Linked DNA regions of Homo sapiens: all the other regions are linked to region 2. The links come from fine-mapping of genetic effects on gene expression. A gene starts in region 2. Each other region holds a variant in brackets. All regions are shown on one strand. Distances are from middle to middle.

Evidence for each region. PIP is the estimated chance that this variant, and not a neighbour inherited with it, causes the effect. A credible set is the group of variants that fine-mapping cannot tell apart.
Region 1: its variant is the best candidate, but not a certain one, in a credible set for the expression of RAB7A in whole blood (TOPMed, PIP 0.52).
Region 3: its variant is the best candidate, but not a certain one, in a credible set for the expression of RAB7A in spleen (GTEx, PIP 0.69).

What each region holds. Positions count from the first base shown.
Region 1 is chr3:128,814,937-128,823,090 of GRCh38, forward strand. No RefSeq gene overlaps it. Among named protein-coding and RNA genes, the nearest start is that of MIR12124, 28 kb to the right of the region's middle. The variant A/G (reference allele first, on the strand shown) is at 4,356.
Region 2 is chr3:128,721,547-128,729,729 of GRCh38, forward strand. It overlaps RAB7A (RAB7A, member RAS oncogene family), which reads left to right and starts at 4,637. Exons shown (of 6, transcript NM_004637.6): 1 at 4,637-4,813. RefSeq lists enhancers at 4,361-4,490, 4,520-5,504 and a silencer at 4,771-5,060.
Region 3 is chr3:128,883,051-128,891,233 of GRCh38, forward strand. It overlaps ACAD9 (acyl-CoA dehydrogenase family member 9), which reads left to right. Exons shown (of 18, transcript NM_014049.5): 2 at 1,603-1,696. Among named protein-coding and RNA genes, the nearest start is that of ACAD9, 7.5 kb to the left of the region's middle. The variant A/G (reference allele first, on the strand shown) is at 3,253.

The DNA.
Region 1 (8,154 bases), 93 kb after region 2:
AAGGCCCTCTCATATCTGGTCCTGTAGTGCCTGTCCCTAGTTTTTTTTTGTTTGTTTTTTTTTCCGGGGGCGGGGGTGGGTGTATTTTAATCACATTGTTGGAGGTTGAGGACCATGGATGGAGAACGCATTGTCCCTTTAGGAGAGCAGCCAGAAACTGCTGGGGACTCTGAGCCATGCATATCCTGTAGGTGTAACTGTAACCTAGTCATGTGTTATGTGTTTTATTTTTAGTTGACCTAGTTGCTAACACTTAGATGTGTAATTCTGCATTTGTCACAGGAGAGGAAGATTTGGCAGCAGAGGCCCTGTATTCCAACATATGTAAGCCCCCACCTGGAATGGAATAGTTGCCACTTAGAAGCAATTTTATTAAAATAGTAGTAGTTCAGGTCGTGAGTCACTTTAGGTTTTGCAGAAGTGCCTCATTGAGTTAGATCTTGAATTCTACTTTGCTACACTTTTCTACATTTCCACTTCTCAGGCTCCTCAGCTGGTTTCTTTCCTCGTGGCTCCTCTTGGCATGTACTTTATGTGTTAAAAATAGCATAGTTTAGAAGTTCAGATGCTGCACAATGTGAGATTATCCACAGTGCAATTCCACCCTGGCTGGGTGGCTTAAATCTTCTCTGGTCCTATATTTTGCTTGGGCCTCATCAGGTGTTTGTCCTCTAGAGGAGCAGAGTTCTCTCCAGCTTGGGGCCCAGTGACTGGGCCACAGGGTGTGGACCCTTGTGTGATGCTCACCTCTGCAAATCAGGCATCTATTCCTCTGATTGTGTTCCACTGGTCTTGACCTTGTATGTGACATTAAAATGGACCTTGACTTCTGACCTGCTTGACCTTCATCCTAAAACTGATGATCATCCTGATATTAACCTGCTTTAGCTTGAGATGAATGTAATCTTTAATTGACTGATTTCAACCATTGTCCTTATCATAACTTACCCTAATTTTAATGGCTTTGGCTTTGAACTGGCTTTGACTTTACCCTAAACACGTTCACTGCTGAATGACCTTGACTCTGACCCACCTCCTGACCCTAATCATCACCTGACTTTGAAGTTAACATGGAACCCTACCATGACAATAGGTCTTACTCTCTGACCTGGGACTAATTAGTCTCATGTCCCATCAGCCTGATGGCTGAGCTTGGTGTCATATTTTAACCCTAAATTGTATAATGTTCATCTAAGGGATTCAGCTTAACCACAATAGGGAGCCATGGCTGAGACTGAGCTCTGCATCAACACAGTGCCTTTTTCTTTTTTTTATTTTTTTATTTTATTTTATTTATTTATTTATTTATTTTTGATCATTCTTGGGTGTTTCTCAGAGGGGGATTTGGCAGGGTCATAGGACAATAGTGGAGGGAAGGTCAGCAGATAAACAAGTGAACAAAGGTCTCTGGTTTTCCTAGGCAGAGGACCCTGCGGCCTTCCGCAGCATTTGTGTCCCTGGGTACTTGAGATTAGGGAGTGGTGATGACTCTTAATGCTCATTAAGAGTCATCACAGTGCCTTTTTCTATATTCCTATTTAGATTCAGCATAAGCATGTGTTTTCTCTCAAAAGAGGGGAACTTGTCATTTTGCTGGAATAAGCAGTAAGGATTTACTTTTGTGAAGAATATCTGGGACTGAGTTTGTCTGCAGTACTATGGATTGTTTGGGTTCATTCATATTTGCCTTGAGGTGAGAATGAGAGATGAGTGTGTTGCTGGGTTTGCATCCATCTCAGTTTGCGCTAACAAATATTCAGAAGTTATTTTTGGCGAGGCACACTGGCTCACACCTGTAATCCCAGCACTTTGGGAGGTCAAGGTGGGTGGATCACCTGAGGCCAGGAGTTTGAGACCAGCCTGGGCAACATGGCAAAACCCCATCTCTAATAAAAATACAAAATGTAGGCGGGCGTGGTTGTGGGCACCTGTAGCCTCAGCTACTTGGGAGGCTGAGGCAGGAGAATCGCTTGAACCTGGAAGACAGAGGTTGCAATGAGCCAAGATTGCGCCACTGCACTCCAGCCTGGGCAACAGAGTGAGACTCCATCTCACACACACACACACACACACACACACACACAAAAAGTTTTGGAAAGGACGTCTGGGAATGAGTTTGTTGTACTAGTATGTACTTGTTTCAGTAGTACTCCTTCCTCTGATCCCAGCTTATTCTGCCTGCATGTGAGTGTGTTGCTGTGCCGACTGTCATCTCCCTCAATAAGCTATGAGGAGTTGGTTTTAATAAGAATGCCTGAGTTTGTTGTACTAACAGGAATTCTCATCCAAACTCCTACTCAGGTTCATTCTGATTCCTCTCATCTTTTAGTAAGAATATGCCTTTGAGGTTAATGTGTATTGCATTGCTTACATTGATATCAGTTAACACTGACCTGCAATAAGATTTCACCTTAAGATAAATGTCTGAGACTAAGCTTTTTTGCACTGAAAATGATGCCTTCCAATAGCATGAAGTAGGTGCATCTTGGTTCACTCTACCTTGCAGTAAGAATGTGCCCTAGAGAGGAATGTGTGTGTCCTGCTTACCTTCCTCTCAGTTGTCACTCGCATGCAATTAGGAGTTGCATGAATCAAATGATTGAGACTGGATGTACTTGTACTAATATGGATTCTTTTCATTACCACATGAGACTCATTCTAATCGATTTACACTTAACAATCATCCTGACCGTGATCCCCTTGAGGTAACCTTGGATTAACTTTGAAACTGACCCATGTGTCCTGACCTTGACTTTTTTCTTTTTTTTGAGACGGAGGCTCAGGCTGGAGTGCAGTGGCGTGATCTTGGCTCACCGCAACCTCCGCCTCCCAGGTTCAAGCGATTCTCCTGCCTCAGCCTTCTGGGTAGCTGGGATTACAGGTGTGCACCACCACACCTAGCTAAATTTTGTATTTTTTAGTAGGCGGTTTCACCATGTGAGCTGGGCTGGTCTCAAACTCGCGACCTCAAATGATTCGCTCACTTTGGCCTTCCAAAGTGCTGGGATTACAGGCGTATTGATCCTGATCTTGAATCTCATATGCAGTCATCCTGACCTTAAGCTGAAATAAGCATGAACTTGACCTTGAATTTGAATCTAGCCCTAATTCTGACCCTTGTCCTCACCCTAACCATCACCCTGACCATGTTTTGCCCTCATTTTAAACTTGTCCTTGAAACTGACTTTGATTGATTTTGAATCCAGTACACTGGTGCTTTTCATGGCCCTGAATCTGAATCTGAAGCCAACCCTGAACATTGTCCTGGCCATAAGTTTATACCTCCCCTAAGTTTATACCTGAATCTAGCTGACCTTAACCATTCTTAAGTTATCCTTAACCTTATTCATCCTGCCACTGATGATAGTCTGCCTTTGAACTGCTCTGGCCTTAAAATGACCTTCATCCTCTTGGCTCTAATCCTTAGCCTTGGTATGACGTTGGACCCAACCCTTGTCCTGGTGCTGACCAGCATTCTGACCCTACGTTTCAACTTTACCTTGAGCTTGAGCCATTTGGACCTTGACATGACTTTGAGGCCGACTCTGATTATCACCTTGAACATCATTCTAGCCATGTCTTAGTTTGTGTTTTTTTTTTTACTTGACTTTGCACTTGACCTTGACCCTACCATGGATCCTCAGTTTGACATAATCATCCTGAACTTGCCCTACCTGACTCTGAAATTGCCTTACCTTCATCCTGCCATTGTACGGACAATGACCTTGAACTTTACTTGGATCCTGATCTTAACTATCCTTTGAACACAGACATCCATACTTTGACCCACCCCAACATTGAAATGATCTTACCCAAAAAATTGGCCTTGGCACTGACTCCGATTCTTATCTTCACTCTTATGTGCTTTGATTTTTTGATGATCATTGATCTGAATTGACCCTGGTACTGAACATGGCTGACCATTTTAGAGCCTTGGCTTGTGTCCCAAACCACCAGCACATCTCAGCGCCCACTTCCTTCTTTTCCATTGGCTCTTCTCATGGACGTGTCCTGTATTCATTTGCTAGGACTCTCATAACAAATACGAGGCTGCAGGGCTTCAACAGCAGAAATGTCTTTTCTCCTGGTTTTGGATGATAGAAGTCCGAGATCCAGGTGTCCACGGGGTTGTTTCCTCTCAACCCCTCTCCTCAGCTTGTGGATGCCTCTCTCCTGGTGTCTCCACATGGTCTTCCCTTCTTTGCCGTTCTGGGTTTGAATCTCCTTTCTATGGACACCAGTCAGATTCGATTAGGGCCCAACTATATGACCTTATTTTACTTTAGTTACCTCTTTAATGGTCCCGTCTCCAACTGCAGTCACTTGCTCTGAGGTACTGGGGTTTAGGCCTCAAC[A/G]TAGGAATTGGAGGGGGACACAGCTCAGCACATCACCTCCCCTATCACCTCCCTTATGTACATCTTAGCTCTCATAGCCGTCACTGTCTAATTTTTCTTCCCTTAAATCTGGCTTCATTCCAAATTTCCCCTCCCCTGACTCGTTTTAATCTTTAACAGTTTTGTGAGGTACAACCCACCCTTTGTAAAGAGGAGAAAACAACAGATCTAGAAAGCTGAGCACTTGCTGGGAGGTTCATTTTTCCTAAGAGTAGCTGTATGTTGGAATCACCTGAGGGCCTGTGTCCCACCTGATTTACTGAACTTGACAGTGCCGGAGTGTGGCTCAGGTATGCTTTTAAAACCCCTCCAGGTGATTCTAATGTGTAGCTGGCGTTGAACTGGTATAAAAATATTTCCCTAAATATTTTATGAACCACAAATGTGTAAGGTCCACAGCTGGTTGCTAAGAGACAGGAAAAAGTTTGGCCTTAAAAAAAATTAAAGATCTCGGCCGGGCGTGGTGGCTTACGCCTGTAATCCCAGCACTTTGGGAGGCCTAGGCGGGAGATCACGAGGTCAGGAGATCGAGACCATCCTGGCTAACACGGTGAAACCCCGTGTCTACTAAAAATACAAAAAATTAGCCAGGCATGGTGGCGGGCGCCAGTAGTCCCAGCTACTCGGGAGGCTGAGGCAGGAGAATGGTGTGAACCTGGAGGCGGAGCTTGCAGTGAGCAGACATAGTGCCACTCCAGCCTGGGCAACAGAGTGAGACTTCCATCTCAAAAAAAAAAAAAAAAAAAAAAAAGATCTCAAATGTATGCTCTAGCCTTCCCCACCACCACCGCCACTGAGTTGCAACACTGCACAGATTTTGTTTGACCCACTTTTCCTACATACTTCCAACCAATATTTGTAAATGGGAAGATAGCACACAAAATCCAACTCTAGTTTGTCTTTTAAAAATTGGAAGAAAGTGCAACACTTGGATCACACTCCCGAATTTCTCATAGTGACCACTAATTGAGGACCCACCTTATTTAAACTTGCTTGCCTGGCTCCCATGCTAAGAAACTAATTTATGTCTGAGGGTGGCCCGGCAGCTTCTGAGTGGAATGCGTGTGCTCCAAGAGACCAGGCTTTGGGGTGTGGTGTGCTGAGTGCTGCTGCTCTGCCAAGTGAGCTCGGCCCGGTCCACGGTGACTACCAAGTTTCCATGTCCTGAGTTTCCTGGCCAGGTAGAAGATACTGGAAGTCTGGAGGGGAACCCAAAACTGCCAGCATGGCACATCCTGTCCCAACCTCTTTCCTTTGAGGAAAGGAACCATGTGCCTTCACAATGCCCTTCCTCACAGTACCCCTTTCCTTTGCCAGAAGTCCTTCCTCCATTCACACTGCAGGGCTAAAGATACCCCTTTTTGCTCATTTTTGTTGTAGTTTCATGGAAGGGAGCCAGAACTGGAATTTTGTTAGCTTTTTGGGGTCTAATCATAGTCCGTGGGTGTATTATTACTCCCTACTTTATGCCAGGAAAGAGAAAGGGTAAAGGCTATATAGAAAATCCCTAGCTTAGAGAAGGAAAAGGCCACTCTGGATGGCCCATCGAACAGAGGTGGTGAATTCAGTAGTTGGGTTTCCATTGGTATCTGTTGCTTCTGCTTTCAGAAGCAAGCTTGGCTTGCAGTTTGTAAAAGTACCCTGGGTCCCTAGTCATCTCTGCACTCATAGGAATGCCTGCTGGGGTACTGTTGTGGAAGGACAGGGAAACTTCTTGCCAAATTTCATTCCTTGCCATAGAACAGGATCCTCCAACTCTAGACGTTAACTTAGGTTGTCTTGGAGAGATCATCAAGATTTTGTTAAGTCACTTGATTCTCTAGCTGCACTCCTGGGTAAAAGGAAACTACCCTCACATCTATGATCAGTTGATTTTTGACAAGGGTGCCAAGACCATTCAATGGGGAAAAGACAGTTTTTTCATCAAATTGTGCTGGGATATGGATACCCATACCCATCTGCAAAGAATGAAGTTGGAGTCTTAACCTTGCACCATATACACAAACTAACTTGAACTGGATCAAAGACCTAAGTGTCAGAGCTAAAACTGTAAAACTCTTTGAATAGGGGGAAAGCTTCATGACATTGGATTTGGCAGTGATTTATTTGATACGACTCTAAAAACACAGGCGACAAAAGAAAACAGATTGGACATCATGAAAATTAAAATTTTTTGTGCATCAAAGGACACTACAAAGAGAGTAAAAACTCACCATATATCTCATAAGGGATTAATATCCAGAATATAGAAAGAAGTCCTATAACTCAATTTTAAAAAGTGATTCAAAAATGAGTGAAGGACTTAAATATATATTTCTCCAAAGAAAATACAATGATCACTGTCAGTCCACCAGAAAATGCGAATCAAAACCACACTGAGCTACTTAACACACAAAACAGCAAGTGTTAGTGAAGATGTGGAGAAATCAGAACCCTCGTGTTTTACTGGTGGGAATGTAAAACAGTGCAGCCACTTTGGACAATAGCCTGGTGATTCCTCAAAAAGATAAACATGGAATTACCCTGGGATCAGCAACTCCCCTCTTGAGATGTGTACCCAAGAGAAATGAAAGCTGGGATTCAGAGATACTTGCACACCCATGTTCGTGGTAACATTATTTACATTAGCCAAAAAGTGGAAACAAGTGTTCATCAACAGAGGAATGGATAAACACAATGTGATATGTATGTAGAATGGAATATTATTCATAAGGAGTAAGGCCAGGCGTGGTGGCTCATGCCTGTAAGCCCAGCACTTTGGGAGGCTGAGGTGGGTGGATCACGAGGTTAAGAGATCGAGACCATCCTGGCCAACATGGTGAAACCCCGTCTCTACTAAAAATACAAAAATTAGCTGGGCGTGGTGGCACGCACCTGTAATCCCAGCTACTCCGGAGGCTGAGGCAGGAGAATCGCTTGAACCGGAGAGGGAGAGGTTGCAGTGAGCCGAGATCATGCCACTGCACTCCAGCCTCAGCAACAGAGCTAGACTCTGTCTCAAAAAAAAAGAGAGTAAGATTCTGAGTCATGCTGCAGTATAGATGAGACTTCAAAACATTATTCCAAGGCCGAGTGCAGCGGCTCACACCTGTAATCCCAGCATTTTGTGAGGCCAAGGTGGGAGGATAATTTGAGCCCGGGAGTTCAAGACTGGCCTAGGCAACTTAGTGTGACCCTATCTCTACAAAAAATAAAATTAGCCAGGTGTGGTGGCATGCGCCTGTAGTCCCAGCTACTTGGAGGCTGAGGCAGGAGGATTGCTTGAGCCTAGAGAGGCTGCAGTGAGCTGTGGTTGTGCTGCTGCACTCCAGCCTGGGCAACAGAGCGAGATCCTATCTCAAAAGAAAAAACATTATTCTAAGTGAAATAAGCCTGAAACAGAAGGACAAATATTGTTATCATTCCACTTTTAGGAAGTACCTAGAATAGGAAAATTCATAAGAGACAAAAAGTAGAACAGAGTGCGGGGAGGGGAATGGAGAATTACTCTTTAAAGGGTACACAATGTCTGTTGGGGATGATGGAAGTTTTGGAAGTAAACAGTGGTGATGTTTGCACAACATTGTGAATGTATTTAATGATGCTGGAATTGACACAAGATGGTAAATTTTATGCAAGTTTTATACTTTTTTAATTGAAAAAAAGGAAACTGCTGAGTGAAAAAAAGTCAAAGATCAATGAGTGCCTAAAGCCCATGAACTTGAAAATGAGGCTTCGCCTCACAAAAACGCCAGCTGCCTCTGCATCTGCCCCCTTCCCA
Region 2 (8,183 bases):
CAAGATGTACCATACCTTTTTTACCAGTTCCCTATTGATAGAAATTTGAATGAAAATTGTGCAGGGACGTGTGTGTGTGTGTACGTTTGTACATTGTGTACCACACTAAGTAGTAAGGCTCTTGATATCAATGGCCTTGTTTTCCTTGTGTCCTTAGAACCTAACAAAAAGCCTAGCATATAGGAGATTCTCAGTAAATCGTTTGTTGAAAGAAGGATGTACTTGTCCACTTTCTCCATGGGCAATCCTGTTAACACCCGTTACTTTCATTTCCATCTACTCTTAAATTTCTATTTTCAGCTGAGGCTACCCTGAAGGACCCAGAAACCCAACTCCCATCTCTGCCTCAGCCCAAAATGTCTAACTGCCTCCTCCCCATCTCCACTTGGATGTTTCACGGAAGTCCTCTGTCTCAGCATTTCCAGAACTGAACTTCTCACTCCTAATCTCCTCCAACATACCTGCTGTGCTTTGGATATGATGTGTTCGTGCCCCCAAAATCTTATATTGAAATGTGATCCCAGGCCAGGTGCAATGGCTCACACCTGTAATCCCAGCACTTTAGGAGGCTGAGGAGAGCAGATTACTTGAACTCAGGAGTTTGAGCCCAGCCTGTCCAACACGGCGAACCCCGTCTCTACTAAAAATTCAAAAATTAGCTGGGCATGGTGGCAGGTGCCTGTAATCCCAGTCACTCGGGAGGCTGAGGCACAATAATCACTTGAACCTCATAGATGGAGGTTGCAGTGAGCCAAGATTGCTCCACTGCACTCCAGCCTGGGCAACAAAGCGAGACTCTGCCCCCTCCAAAAAAAAAAAAAGAAATGTGATCCAGGCAGGCTGAGAGTGGTGGCTCTCACGCCTGTAATCCCAGCACTTTGGGAGGCTGAGGGGGGCAGATCACTTGAGGCCAGAAGTTCAATATGGGCCTGGCCAACTTGGTGAAACTCCATCTCTACTAAAAATACAAAAATTATTTGGGCATGGTGGTGCACGCCTGTACTTCCAGCTGCTCGGGTGGCTGAGGCACGAGAATTGCTTGAACCCAGTGGGTGGAGGCTGCAATGAGCTGATAGCACCTCTGCACTCCAGCCTAGGCGACAGAGCAAAACTCTGTCTCAAAAAAAAAAAAAAAAAAAAGAAATGTGATTCCTCAGTGTGGAGATTTGGGAGGTGGGGCCTAGTTGGGGGTATTTGAGTTGTGGGGGGGTTCCCTCATGAATAGTTTGGTGCCATTCTAGGTAGTGAGTGAGTGAGTGAGTTCTGGCTCTGGTGAGGCTGGATGAGTTCTCACAGGAATTGATTAGTTCCCAAGAGAGTAGGTTGTGCTAAAGCCAAGATGTCCCTTGGATTTGGGCTGGGATTTCAGGCACGTGCCACAGCGCCCGGCTAATTTTTGTATTTTTAGTAGAGACGGGGTTTCACCATGTTGGTCAGGCTGGTAAAGACCAAAACACTTCTAATATTAAATATTAAAGTAAATGTGAACTATATATATATTTAAGACAGATTAATGAAAATGAGCAAGATAATTATTTATCCAATTATTCCATCTCAGGGTCACAGGTGGCCAGTCTATCCTGGCAGCTCAGGACAGGAACCAACCCTGCACAGGATGCCAGCCCATTGTGTACACGTGTGCGCACGTGCACACACACACACACACACACACACAGAGACTGGGACAATTCAGACAAGCCAATTCACCTAAAGGGCACATCTTTGGGATGTGGGAGGAAACCAGAGGAACCAAGGAAAACTCAGACATGGGGAAAGAGTGTAAACTACACAGACAGGGGCCCCAGCCAGGAATCAATTTTTTCTCATCAATGTTATAATTGAAATGATGTTACTGGAGGCCCTGCTCTACTTAACTCCCCCAAGAACCCTAAAAGTCTCAATCCCAATACATCACTGGCTCATAATGGATCTTGCCATGTAAATTGGGTCCAGATGTGGATGAGGTTCCTCAGATATAATTCCTTAAGAACGGCTCTGAGCACTGTTCCTCTGAAGGCCTGTGAGCTAGAGATGTTATCTGCTGTCCACGGACCCAGCATACAGAGTTGGCAAGAAGAAGATAAGCATAGTAGACACTTTTGTTCAAAAGGGGAAAAAACAGGAGCGACAGCTGCCACTGGGTCATAGTAATTCTGAAATCAGCGAGGCACGTGATGCCAGTTCCTTGATTCGAGTCCCCTCCTGCTCCTTGGGAATGATTATCTGCAGCTCCTGGCTCTATCCTCTTGGCTCATGGGTTTCTTCTAAGTTGTCCTTTCTTTCCCATAGGAAATAGTCCATGTTTGCATCTGAATAGCCTTCTCAGAAGGCTTCTTAGAAGGCTGGGGCCCACATGTCCCATTTTATTTTTGTGCTCTGCCTTTTCTGGTATAATTGTCCCTTGCTATTTGTGGTGGATTGGTTCTAGGACTCAGATGCTCAAATCCTGCAGTCAGCCCTGCCAAACCTGGGGATGAGGACTACTGCATTCCCAGTTGCTACTTTACCTTCAAACCTAGCATTTTGATTGGCTGCCTAACGGGGTGGAATTATCATAACTCTTGGCCTTTGAAACTATTTTCAGTTTTCATTCCCCTGAATACTCTGCAAATTGTACACATTGAGCACCTACTGTACCCCAACACTGTTTCAAGAATCAGGGATATCGCAGTGAATGAGACAGACAAAAATAGCTGCCTTGTGGAGCTGCCATTCTAGTGGGGAAGACAGACAATATGCAAATAAGTGAGTAGTATAAGAGGAAAAACTTTGGGAGGCTGAGTCGGGAGGATTACTTGACACCATTACTTGACACCAGGAGTTCAAGACTGCCTGGGTAACATAGTGAAAACTTCTCTTTACAAAAAAAAAAAAAAAATTAGCCAGCCATAGTGGTGCACGCCTGTGGTCTCAGCTACTCAGGAGGCTGAGACAGGAGGATCACTTGAGCCCAGAAGTTCAAGGCTGCAGTAAGCCCTGATTATGCCACTGCACTCCAGCATGGGCAACAGAGCAAGAACTTTTCTCAAAAAAAAAAAAAAGAAAAAGAAAATAAAAAAGAAAAAACAGAGGAGAAAAGCAGTAGGGAGATGTCAATTTTTGTGTTTGTATTGTGGTGACAGGGAGAGGGACTTCAGTTTTAAATAGGGAAGGCTATTTCACTGAAAAGGTTACTTTAAAGTCAAGACCAGAGGAAAGTGAGGGAGTGGCCAAGCAGATACCTGGAGGAAGAGCTTTCCAGGTAGAGAGAAGTACAACTGCAGAGGTCTGATGTAGATGTGTGCCTTCTCTTTTCTTTTTTGTTTATCTTTTGGAAGAGACAGTCTTGTTATGTTGCCCAAGCTGGTCTTGAACTCCTGGGCACATGCAAAGTGAAAGCAGAGAAAGAGTGGACTTACCCCAGAGGCGGATGGTTCTGCAGTGTGCAAGGCCATTTCAGAATACACATAGAGAAAACAGGAGAATAGGTGGTGAGGGTTTTGGGGAAAGAGCCAATTTTGGTTGAAAAAGTAGGGGAAACCCCAGACATTGTACCATCTCAGGGTTGAGACTGCTTGCCTAGCTTTTGAGATTTTTTTTTTCCCCAGACCCCTCAACTCCTGAGATCTTATCGGGAAGCTGCTGATCACCAGTTTTAGGTGTTTTTATCTATTGGGAGACTGCCTTTCTCTGGTCTGGCTGCAACCAATTATTATTTTAGAGAGACAGCTTAACCTGACAACCACGTCATGGTTGCCTCACATTGCTGGTCGGGGAGTGGCCCCTCTCCTGCCCTGCTCAGGTCTGACTACTTACTGTAACAATTGCAAGGTTTTTGGATGGAACAATTGAAAGAATGGAGCTTGCATGAACCAAAATAAGAAAAGACTATGAGAGGGCATTGTTGAAGATGGAGGCAAAAATTCTGAGTGGATCCTGATGTGTTCGGATGGGGCTGGTGCTTGGGAGGCTGCTCTGTGCTTACAAGAAGAGTTCTACCCGGTCCATCTTTATCACATCTTCTCTAATACTAAGTTCAGAGAGGCTTTAGCTCATTTTCCATTTTCTTGGGCTGTCTCCTCTGCCAGACAAAGTGCCTATTTCTCCTGTCTCTATCACCGAGCCACACAATTGCTGTAGTCATTTGCAGTCTACTAGAACGATAACACATATTGGCATCAGACAGATCTTGGTTCAAAACCTCGCTCCACCAGTTTCTGTGTTGAGCTAGACCAAGTGACATGATATACTGAGTCTCAGTTCCTTATTTGTAAAATGGTGATAATAATTTTTGGTTAAGTAATTAAAGTAAGGATAAATGATGCCTTTCGAAGAAGGACACAACTGGAATGGCCAGTTTACCCCTTGTCCCCTCTTCGGTGGCATTATTTATTCTGGAGTAAGGAGGGATGGCTGAGGGAATCTGTCTGTGGGTCCAACATGGCGCCGTCCTGCTCCTTGTATGAGCCTCAAAGATGGGGACAACCATTTGGGGGCAGACATGTTTGTAGCACGAGATCCAGGCTCAGTCCCGAGGCAGCCGGAACGTGACGCAAGGTTGAGGCGGGGCTCCTCCCCCGCACCCTGGCGTCGAGCGTCTCGTGACAGGTACTTCCGCTCGGGGCGGCGGCGGTGGCGGAAGTGGGAGCGGGCCTGGAGTCTTGGCCATAAAGCCTGAGGCGGCGGCAGCGGCGGAGTTGGCGGCTTGGAGAGCTCGGGAGAGTTCCCTGGAACCAGAACTTGGACCTTCTCGCTTCTGTCCTCCGTTTAGTCTCCTCCTCGGCGGGAGCCCTCGCGACGCGCCCGGCCCGGAGCCCCCAGCGCAGCGGCCGCGGTAAGCAGCGGGCCCAGCCCGGCCGGCGGCCTGGCCCCATCCCCCCCCTCAGCCCCTCGGTCGCCAGGGCCTCGCGTCCTCCCTGTCCTCCTGGGCAGGCTCCAGTCCCAGCCCTGGCCACGCGGGCACACCCGGCATCGCTCAGGCCCCCGGAGCAGGCCAAGACCCCACCCGGCTTGGAGAGGTCGGAGGTCGTCGGGCGTGACCTCTGGCCGGGTTGCCCGCCCCGGCCACCCGTCTCGGACGCTCTGTTTACTGTTGGCCTGGATCTCAGAGACCCGAGAGGGTTCCTTGACTTGGGCGGCCCTGCGCCGCGGCAGGACGCGCTGGCCAGTGGAGTTCCTTAGCGCGGCGAGCAGGAGGGTGTCAGAGCCCACGCCGCCCGCCGCCGTGCCCACCCGGCGGGCATGGGTCACAGGCGCTGGGGGCCGAGCCGCGTTCCCATCCGGTTCTTCAGTTGAACAGCCTGACCCTGTTAGTGGGAGTTCCCTGACGGCAACTGAGTCAAGGCAGTGAGTCAGGTCACGTGCGCTGGGCTCGCCTCGACACTTGTGTACATTGAGGCGCCTCTGGCGCTGGGAGACAGGGAGCTTTTTGTCCTAGGCATGTTACGGTAAATCCTGAGAGAAGTTTTTCAACTTAATCGAGGAAAGATGGTAGTTGGATGTAGAGTTGTGTTTCCATTCCGACCGTGTTTGGGGCCTCTTTCTGCATTCATTTTAGGCTTGATACCTAATGGGGTCATAAGGGGAATATTGAGAATATTGACAGCAAATATTTGAGCGTTTATTGTATGCTAGGCAGCGTGGCAAGACCTTTTAACAGATCATTATGTTTAGTTCTTTGAACAACCCTCTGAAGTACCACTGTTGTGCCCACTTAACACAGTGGGAAGTTGAACAGAGAGGCTAAGCCATTTGGCCAAGGTCACACAGCTAATAAGTTACGAAGCAGAGATGCAAGCCCAGGCAGTCAGACTCCAGAGCACTGTATTAAATTTCTAGGTTGTACTGCTTTCACGTACCCCTGAAGCTTGCTGGTTTATCTTTTGCTACCTGGTATCTGTACCTCAGTGCCTCCCACCACCTCCTTTCTTTCTATTGATGTCATTTGAAAGTCTTTCTGGTAGCATCAGTTCTCCCTTAAAGCCATAAGAAATGCCGTTTGCGACTTATCACACATATTGTGGTGTAGTGTCACCGAATTAGGAGCTCTTGAATACCGGCAGGGTACTTAACTGAGGTTTGAAAAATTTTGCAGGTAGGCCTGGCAAACCTGCCTAGTGAACCTTTCTTACAACCTTAGTTGATGGCTGTCCAGCCGGCTGGTTCTTCCCTATTCAAAATACTGCATCTTTGGTTTCCTAAAGAACGGACTCTTGTCTCTTTCTTGTGACTTAAGCAGCTGATGAAGCACATGATTTCTCATCCATGGATGAATAAAGTCTCCTCTTAGTGTGTTTCTCTCTTCAAACTTGGGAAGGTTTGTTCAGATTTGAGTTTAAGGACTGGAAGGTGAGTTAGGAGTACTTCTTCTGAAGAAGGGACCGGCTAAGTTAAAGCTTAGCGTTCACAATCCTGTTGTATTCATATTTGTCTTTTTTTTTTTTAACTTTGCTACCTAGCCTAAAATATTTAAGTGAGTAATAAGTACTGTGGCTTTATATAATGTTTGAGTTTAGAGTAATGATAGGCACCTTTTTATTCATTCATTAAGTATTTTGAGTATCCATTGAGTATCAGCAATGTATCAGGCATTGTGGGACATTGACTCAGGGAGATAGGCGTGGTTCCTGTCCTCAAGGAATTTTTAAAAGGTGAATGATCTTGGCCAGAAATTCTGTTGTGGAATAATTTGGCGGTAGAACTTGAGGCTTTTTGGAAAGAGTTATTTCTCATCTCTGCTGGTGAATCAGTAGTAACCCAAAGGATGGTGTTCTTCTGGCTAACTTTAAGGCTTTGTTAATTTTAACAACAGCATTTGTATGGTTTGCTCTTCAGAGAGTGTAGAAGATAATATTACAGTTTCTAATTAATCACATCTTTTAAAGAGTAACCTTCAACACTCAACTTGTTTCTCCTTTTGCTCTAGTGGCATTTATTTTATTTTATTTATATTTTGAGACGGAGTTTCCCTCTTGTTGCCCAGGCTAGAGTGCAATAGCGCGATGTCGGCTCACTGCAACCTCTGCCTCCCGGGTTCAAGCCATTCTCCTGCCTCAGCCTCCCGAGTGGCTGGAATTACAGGCATGCGCCACCATGCCCAGCTAATCTTGTATTTTTAGTAGAGACAGGTTTTCTCCATGTTGGTCAGGCTGGTCTCGAACTGCCTACCTCAGGTGATCCGCCTGTCTCGGCCTCCGAAAAGTGCTGGGATTACAGGCATGAGCCACTGCGCCCGGCCGACTCTGGTAGCATTTTTTTGTTCACTCAAGAGGTAGTCCATGTCACTACTGTAATTACCTTGCACTGCCATGTCTTTGAGCAAAGGTACATTTGGCATGCTGGATTTTTTTCTTCAGCTGGCAAGAAAGTTTAATGTAGCACTGATAGTGTACTGGCCATAGTTTCAGTACCATTCTACATAGAAAAGCTGTGTTACCCTATCTCCCACAACTTTCTAGATTCCCTTCTTTAAGGGAAGATTTGGATTTTACATTTGTGGTAGAACTGCATAAGTAAACAGAGGGTGGAATGTAGAAGATAGTCTAAAAATAGTTTTATTAGTATATCCTTCTAGGTAGTTAGCAACCACTTGGGGCAATTTTTTTTAAAATTTTTTTTTAGTGCCAACTGTGTCTAAGCTCACCAACCCTGTAATCAGAGAACAACTCTTTATAGTAAAGTGTGGCTTTGAATCAGTTTTCTGACCCCACTGCCAAGTGAAGCCAAAAAATTTTGGTTATTTGATTAGCTTTTAATATGTCTTCAGCTGGGCACGGTGGCTCACGCCTGTAATCCCAGCACTTTGGGAGGCCGAGGCAGGTGGATCATGAGGTCAGGAGATCGAGACCATCCTGGCTAACACAGTGAAACCCCATCTCTACTAAAAATACAAAAAATTAGCCGGGCGTGGTGGCGGGCGCCTGTAGTCCCAGCTACTCGTGAGGCTGAGGCAGGAGAATGGCGTGAACCCAGGAGGCAGGGCTTGCAGTGAGCAGAGATCATGCCGCTGCACTCCAGCCTGGGCGACAGAGCGAGACTTCTTCTCAAAAAAAAAAAAAAAAAAAGTCTTCAAAGGGATCTTCACTAATAACGTTTTTGCTCTTACTTTGGCATTAGACTTTGTAAACAAAGATGTAGCAAACACAGACCACGCAAATATGACAGTTGTCTTATGCACATTCCTCTCTGGCATTTGACACAAATAT
Region 3 (8,183 bases), 160 kb after region 2:
AGAGTGATGGAGCCATCAGCTTGTTTTTTTTTTTTTTTCTTGTTTTTTTTTTCCTTGAGACAGTGTCTTACTCTGTTGCCCACCCTGGAGTGCAGTGGTGCAATCACAGCTCACTGCAGCCTCAACCTCCCCAGGCTCAGGGGATCCTCCCACCTCAGCCTCCTGAGTAGCTGGAACTACAGGCGTGTGCAACCACGCCCAGGCTGGTTTTGAACTCCTGGGCTTTAAGCAATCCCCCTGCGTCAGCTTCCCAAAGGACTAGGATTACAGGCAGTAGCCACTGCAACCAGCTAAGCTTGTTTTTTTCTTTTTCTTTTCTTTTTTTTTTATGGAGTCTCACTCTGTCACCTAGGCTGGAGTGCAATGGCGCAATCTCGGCTCACTGCAACCTCCACCTCCCGGGTTCAAGCAATTCTCCTGCCTCAGCCTCCTGAGTAGCTGGGATTACAGGCGCGTGCTACCAAGCCCGTGTAATTTTTGTATTTTTAGTAGAAACGGGGTTTCACCATGTTGGTCAGGCTGGTCTCAAACTCCTGACCTCGTGATCCGCCCGCCTCGGCCTCCCAAAGTGCTGGGATTACAGGCGTGAGCCACCGTGCCTGGCCTCCAACCTTTTTTTTTTTCTATACCACCTTCAGGGTGGTTTTGGAATGGATGGAGGCAGGGATTCCTTTAAGTTGGCTGTCACTTTTAGTTAGGGACTCACCTATAAGCCTGTGGTCCTGGGCCCAGAGAGGAGAAAGCAGTGCGAGCATATTGATAGAGTAGAGAAATCTGTTGGCTGATTAGCTGTACAAGGTCTGAGGAGAAGGTTGAGGTCTCCCCAAGACTTCTCTAGAACACTTGGTGAGAGGCGCCATGAGGACAGGTGATGCTTGGGCTTATAGCTCTGACTCAGGACATCACTGCTCAACAGCCTGAAGCCCACATCCAAAGCTCATGTCATGCTGGCAATTGAAGGGGTAGCAGAGCCCAAAAGTCCAGAGGGGCTCAGCACAGGGAGCAGATGTCTGTGAGCAGGAGAGACAGCGGCTGTAGGGATCGATGAGACTTGGTAAGCATGATGTGCTCTTGTCAGCATAGCATCTTTGAGCTCACACAATAATTGATGTAGAATTGTCCATTTCAGTAAGGAGTTTCCACATCCACTATCTTCCACGATTCTCACAAGGGCCTTGAGTAAATATTACCTGCATGTTATGGGTGAGAAAGGGGTAGTTTAGAGAGCTGAAGGGATTTGGTGAAGGCCACATAATGAGTAAGCCTGAAATCAAGGACCAGACCCCCAGGCTTCTAAATGTTAGTCTTGGGCTCCTTGTTTCATGGGACTATTATCATCCCTTGTACTGAGAAGGAAAACTGATGAAAATCGGGAAGAACCTATTTGAACAGGGGAGGGAGATGGATGTGGGTGGTGGAGCCTGCACATAGTTTCTGTATCTCAGGAACCTTGTGAGGTTTGCTTTCCAGTTCCTTCAGTACGTCATGTCCCGCTGGCCAGGGTGGAGTGGAGCACATGTTTTTCCTTCCCTTTTAACTGATATTTCCGTGATGGGAGTGTGCTAAAAATTAAATTTTTTAGAAAATATTTACTATTTTTAGAAAGAAGTTTTCCCATTTCCAGAAGTTAGCCAAGATGAACTTAATGAAATCAATCAGTTCTTGGGACCCGTGGAAAAATTCTTCACTGAAGAGGGTATGTATGGTTTTCTTTACCATTGCCGATTTCCATTGTAAGGGCTATTTGGTTGATATTTATATTAGAAGTGACATACATAGGAGAAGTCTTCTTGAGGGAGAAATGGTTTCCACTCATAATATTTTGCTTTAGGTTTCATCCCTATTGCCATTTAATTAAAAAACATCCAGTTAAATGCTTCTCATTGTATTTGTGGTTCAGGAGCACTTTAAACATTTCCATACTGTTCCAGGTCAACACTTCCATAAAGCTATAATAAAAATGAATAACTAAAAAAATTAGATGGCAAAAAGCCAAGGCCACACACCATACAAGCCCATGGAGCATGTGTTGGTTGTTGTGGCAGTGTACAGTTGCTCTTAGTGTTTCTAAAGGTTGAGTTTCAATTTCTGTACTTTGGTAATTGTAAACAAAGAGTGATTTGTGGACCAGCCACAGTTTGGCACCTGCATGGTGAGGCAGCATTTGACCTCAGGTCCCTCTCTCAGAGCTGTTGGCCGGTCCTCCAGCCAGGGCCTTGGTGGAGAGTTCAGTGATGGTGGATGGACAGCAGGTCTTCCCTAATAGTAGGATCCTGGAGAGCTTTTGTTTATATGAATTTTATCTATCAATATTTGCCATCTTAGGGGTTATTTTATTTTTATTTTACTTTATTTTTTTGAGAAAGGGCCTAGCTCTGTTGCTCAGACTGGAGTGTGGTGGTACCATCTCATCTCACCACCACCTCCATCTTTCAGGCTCAAACAGTCCCCCAACTTCAGCCTCCTGAGTTGCTGGAACTACAGGTGCGCACCCCCATGCCCAGCTAATTTTTTTGTATTTTTCATAGAGACAGGTTCTCACTATATTGCCCAGGCTGGTCTCTACTCCTAGGCTCAAGTGATCCTCCCACCTTGGCCTCCCAAAGGGCTGGGATTACAGGTGTGAGCCACCATGCCTAGCCCCTCTTAGAAATTAAAACTGAGAAATTTAAAATATACTGTGGGGCTGGGTGCAGTGGCTCACGCCTGTAATCCCAGCACTTTGGGAGGCCAACGGGGACAGATCACCTGAGGTCTGGAGTTCAAGACCAGCGTAGCCAACATGGTGAAACCCTGTCTCTACTAAAAATACAAAAATTGGCCGGGCATGGTGGCGGGTGCCTGTAATCCCGGCTATTCAGGAGGCTGAAGCAGGCGAATTGCTTGAACCCAGGAGGCAGAGATTGTAGTGAGCCAACATTGCACCACTGCACTCCAGCCTGGGTGACAGAGTGTGACTTTGTCTAAAAAAAAAAAATAAAATATACTGTGTTCATTTGTTTAAAAATAATAAATCCATTACATGTTAACATAATATTTTTAATGAAAAATATTTTGTTTTTGTTTTTCCGAGACAGAGTCTCACTCTGTCACCCAGGCTGGAGTGCAGTGGTGCAATCTCGACTCACTGCAACCTCTACCTCCCAGGTTCAAGTGATTCTCCTGCCTCAGCCTCCCAAGTATCTGGGACTGCAGGCATGCACCACCACGCCCGGGTAATTTTTGTATTTTTAGTAGAGATGGGGTTTCACT[A/G]TGTTGGCCAGGTTGGTCTTGAACTCCTGACCTCATGATCTGCCTTCCTCAGCCTCCCCAAGTGCTGGGATTACAGGCGTGAGCCACCGCGCCAGCTAATGAAAAATATTTTGAAAAATAATCAGGCCAGGCGCGGTGGCTCACACCTGTAATCCCAGCACTTACGGAGACTGAGGTGGGTGGATCACCTGAGGTCGGGAGTTCGATACCAGCCTGACCAACATGGAGAAACCTCATCTCTACTAAAAATACAAAATTAGCTGGGCGTGGTGGTACATGCCTGTAATCCCAGCTACTCAGGAGGCTGAGGCAGGAGAATCGCTGGAACCTGGGAGGCGGAGGTTGCGGTGAGCCGAGATCGCGCCACTGCACTCCAGCATGGGCAATAAGAGTGAAACTCTGTCTCAAAAAGAAAAAAAAAAGAAAAGTAAGTTAAAAAAAAAAAAAGAAAAAAATTGATGGAAAGAGTGACATTGGTTGAAAGTTATGCAAGTCCTTTTAATGTTTGGCTTATTAGAAGACAGCTGGATTCTCATACCTGTTTGTGCACGTAACCTCTGGAAAAGTCCACTGTGCAGTCTTTTTTTTTTTTTAACTGTCTTTTTTTATAATCTTCAGACATGCTTTTTGTTTGTTTGTTTCTGAGACAGTCTTGCTCTTGCTTTGTCACCCAGGCTGGAGTGCAGTGGTACGACCTCAGCTCACTGCAACCTCTGCAGTTGAAGTGATTCTCATGCCTCAGCTTCCTGAGTAGCTGGAATTATAGCACGCACCGCCACGCCTGGCTAATTTTTGTATTTTCAGTAGAGATGGGGTTTCACCATGTTGGCCAGGCTGGTCTTGAACTCCTGACCTCAAATGATCTGCCTGTAATCCAAAGTGCTGGGATTACAGGTGTCAGCCACCGCACCTGTCCTGACACGTGCATTTAAAGCAAGAAACACACACTTCCAGGACATAGGGCTCTGTCAGCAATAACTGTCATCTTTGTATTTGCAGAGATGTAAATATATAAGAAACCGGCTGGGCACGGTGGCTCACACTGGTAATCTTAGCACTGTGGAAGACTGAGGGGGGCAGATTGCTTGAGTCCCAGAGTTTGAGACCAGCCTAGGCAATGGAGCGAAACCCTGTCTCTACTAAAAATTTAAAATATTAGCCGGGCATGGTGGTGCGCGCCCATAGTCCCAGCTACTTGGGAGTCTGAGGTGGGAGAAGGTACCCAAGCCTGGGAAGTCAAGGCTGTAGTCAGCTGTGTTCATGCCATTGAGCTCCAGCCTGGGCGACAGGAGTGAGACCCTGTCTCAAAAAAAAATAAAAATAAAAATAAAAAAATAAATAAATATATATATATATATATATATATGCAAGAAACCACTGCAAACCAAACCCACTCCCTCTCACAGGAACAAAGGTCTCTTGGAATAAATAGCAAATGCTGGAATAAAAACTATGTTCATTCAGCTGCCATGATGTGAATTCAAAAAGGAAGTTAAATCCAAGGGCAAAGCAGAGAAAAGAACATACAAAAATACACCTATTTCATGTACATTCAAAGAGGAGGCTAATCACTGTGGACAAAGGGCCCTCTGGAATGACAGCTGTAGGCAGCCAGCAGTGCCACGGAAATAGAGGCACTGTCATCTGGAGACACAGAAAAATCACATCCTCCCACAACTGGCCTCTATGAAAACCAACCAGGACAGACAACCCTTCCCCAAAAGTAATGGCCAAGAATAAAAGCACAAATATTGCTGGAAATCCAAGTAGCCTGTTTTACTGCTTTGAGTGACTTATATGCAAACCTAAGACTTTTTTCTGAATCCTTGATCAAGATTTATTCATATAAAGGCCGTACATAAATTCTGGGAACATGGTACTTTGGACTATATATTGGACTCTGAGCCAAAACGTTAAATACACTACACTGCGCCCCACTGTACAGTCTTCAGAGAATTAGAATTTAAAAGCAAGTAACATCTTAAGTAGTTTTAGGCCAGGTATGGTGGCTCATGCCTGCAATCCCAGCGCTTTGGGAGGCCGACGTGGGTGGATCACTTGAGGTCAGGAGTTTGAGACCAGCCTGGCCAACATAGTGAAACCCTGTCTCTACTAAAAATATAAAAATTAACCAGGTGTGTTGGTGCCCACCTGTAATCCCAGCTACTGGGGAGGCCGAGGCAGGAGAATCACTGGAACCCGGGAGGTGGAGGTTGTATTGAGCTGGGATGGCGCCACTGCACTTCAGCCTGGGTGACAGAGTGAGACTCCATCTCAAAAAAAAATAAAAACTAGTTTTGATCCTGTGGGACCCCCTAGAAGCAGCTCAGGTCCCCCAGAACCTCTTTGAGAAGTGCCAAATTGTCAGCTGTCATTACATTGCTTGGTTTTTGTTTGTTTCTTATTTCACACCTGGTGATCACAAATTATATGTTGCTAGTTTTAAAAGTTGCTTATTTATATATAAACATAATTTATAATTTAGAAATACTTATTTCTGCTTTTTTTCCTAGTGTTTATCTTCCTATTTGTATCTTTTTTTAGCTCCCATAGTCTCTTGTTCTTTTATTTAAACTTTTCCTATGTGGTTTGTCAGGTTTTTTTTTTTTTCAGGTTTAATTAAGGAATAATTGATTTACAATAAATTGCACACACTGTCATGTGACACATAATGACATTCAAGTCAATGACAGACCATATATACAGTGGTGATCCCATAAGATCATCATACCATATTTCTACTGTATCTTTTCTATGTTTAGCTGTGTTCATATACACAAATACTTACCATTGTGTTACAGTTGCCTACAGTGTTCAGCACAGTAATATGCTGTACAGCTTTTTTGTTTTGTTTTGTTTTCCTTAAAAAAAAAAAAACAAAAAATATTTAACAGTGAGATGGGGTTTCACTGTGTTGCCCAGGCTGGTTTCCAACTCCTGGGCTCAAGTGATCCTCCCGCCTCAGCCTTCCAAAGTGCTGGGATTATAGGCATGAGACACCACGCCCGGCCTACTGTACAGGTTTGCAGCCTAGGAGCAATAAGCCATACCATATAGCCTAGGTGTGTAGTAGGCTCTGCCACCTAGGTTGTGTAAGTCCATTCTGATGTTCATACAGGGAGAGAATCACCTGACGCATGACTGTATTTAGAGAGTACCCCTCAGGAGCCATCAGTGCAACAGAGGAAGTGAACGTACTCATTACCCGTCAAAGTTTCCTTGTGCCTCTTTTATTTCCCCCCTGTTTCCAGGCAACTGCTGATCTGTTTTCTCTCACTATAGATTAGTTCGTATTTTTTGGAATTATATTATGTGTGATTTTGTCTGGCTTCTTTCTGCATAATTTTGAATTTCATCCATGGTGCATGTATTGGTAGTGGCTTCCTTTTTAATGCTGAGTCATATTTCTTTCTATGGATATACCAAGATTTGTTTATCCATTCAAGTATTCATCAACATAGGGTATGTATCCAGATTTTAGCTATCACCAAAAAAGTTGCCATAAACATTCCTTTTTTCCTCTTTTTCTTTTTTTAAGAGACAGGGTCTTTCTTTGTTGCCTGGGCTGGAGTGCAGTGGTGTGATCATAGCTCACTGCAACCCTTGAACTTCTGGGCTCAAGCCATCCTCTGCCTCAGCCTCCCGCATAGCTAAGACTACAGGCACACGCTACCATGCCCAGCTAATAATTCTTAAAGTTTTTTGTAGAAATGGGTTCTCACTATGTTATTCAGGCTGGTCTCAGACTCCTGGGCTCAGGTGATCTTCCTACCTCAGCCTCTTAAAGTGTTGGGATTACAGGTATGAACCACTGCGCCTGGCCTGTATTTCCTTTTTTTTTGAGATGCCATCTCGACTCACTGCAACCTCCATCTCCCAGGTTCAAGCGATTCTGCCTCAGCCTCCCGAGTAGCTGAGATTATAGGTGCGTGCCACCACATCTGGCTAATTTTTGGTATTTTGAGTAGAGAAGGGGCTTCACCATGTTGGCCAGGCCAATCTCGAACTCCTGACCTCAGGTGATCTGCCCGACTCGGCCTCCCATAGTGCTCGGATTACAGGTGAGAGCCACCTCGCCCAGCCTGGCCTGTATTTTATTTTAGAAACTTTATAGTTTTGGCTGGGCGCAGTGGCTCATGCCTGTAATCCCAGCACTTTGGGCGGCCGAGATGGGCGGATCATGAGGTCAGGAGATCGACACCATCCTGGCTAACATGGTGAAACCCCGTCTCTACTAAAAATACAAAAAATTAGCCGGGCGTGGTGGCAGGTGCCTGTAGTCCCAGCTACTCGGGAGGCTGAGGCAGGAGAATGGCGTGAACCCGGGAGGCGGAGCTTGCAGTGAGCCAAGATCGCACCACTGCACTCCAGCCTGGGCGACAGAACAAGACTCCATCTCAAAAGAAACTGTATAGTTTTAATTCAGGTTTAGAACTATGATTCATTACAAGTTAATTTGCATTTCTTTATCAATTTTACAATTTTCAATGTCTGCAAAAAGGCCTACAATTCTTAAATGGTTGGTTTATCTTTTAGAGCAATTTTTTTTTTTTTTTTGAGACGAAGTCTCACTGTGTCACCCAGGCTGAAGTGCAGTGGCGCTATCTTGGCCCACTACAACCTCTGCCTCCCAGGTTCAAGCGATTCTCCTGCCTCAGCCTCCTGAGTAGCTGGGACTATAGGTGCGCATCACTATGCCCGGCTAATTTTTATATTTTTTTAGTAGAGACAGGGTTTCACTATATTGGCCAGGCTGGTCTCGAACTCCTGACCTTGTGATCCACCCGCCTCGGCCTAAAGTGCTGGGATTATAGGCTTGAGCCACCGTGCCCGGCCAGCAATTTTTAAAATAGGAAAAAAGGATCTTGTAGTTACCCATGTAGTTACTGATTCCAGGGCTCTTCATTCTCTCATGTAGAGTCAGATTCCCT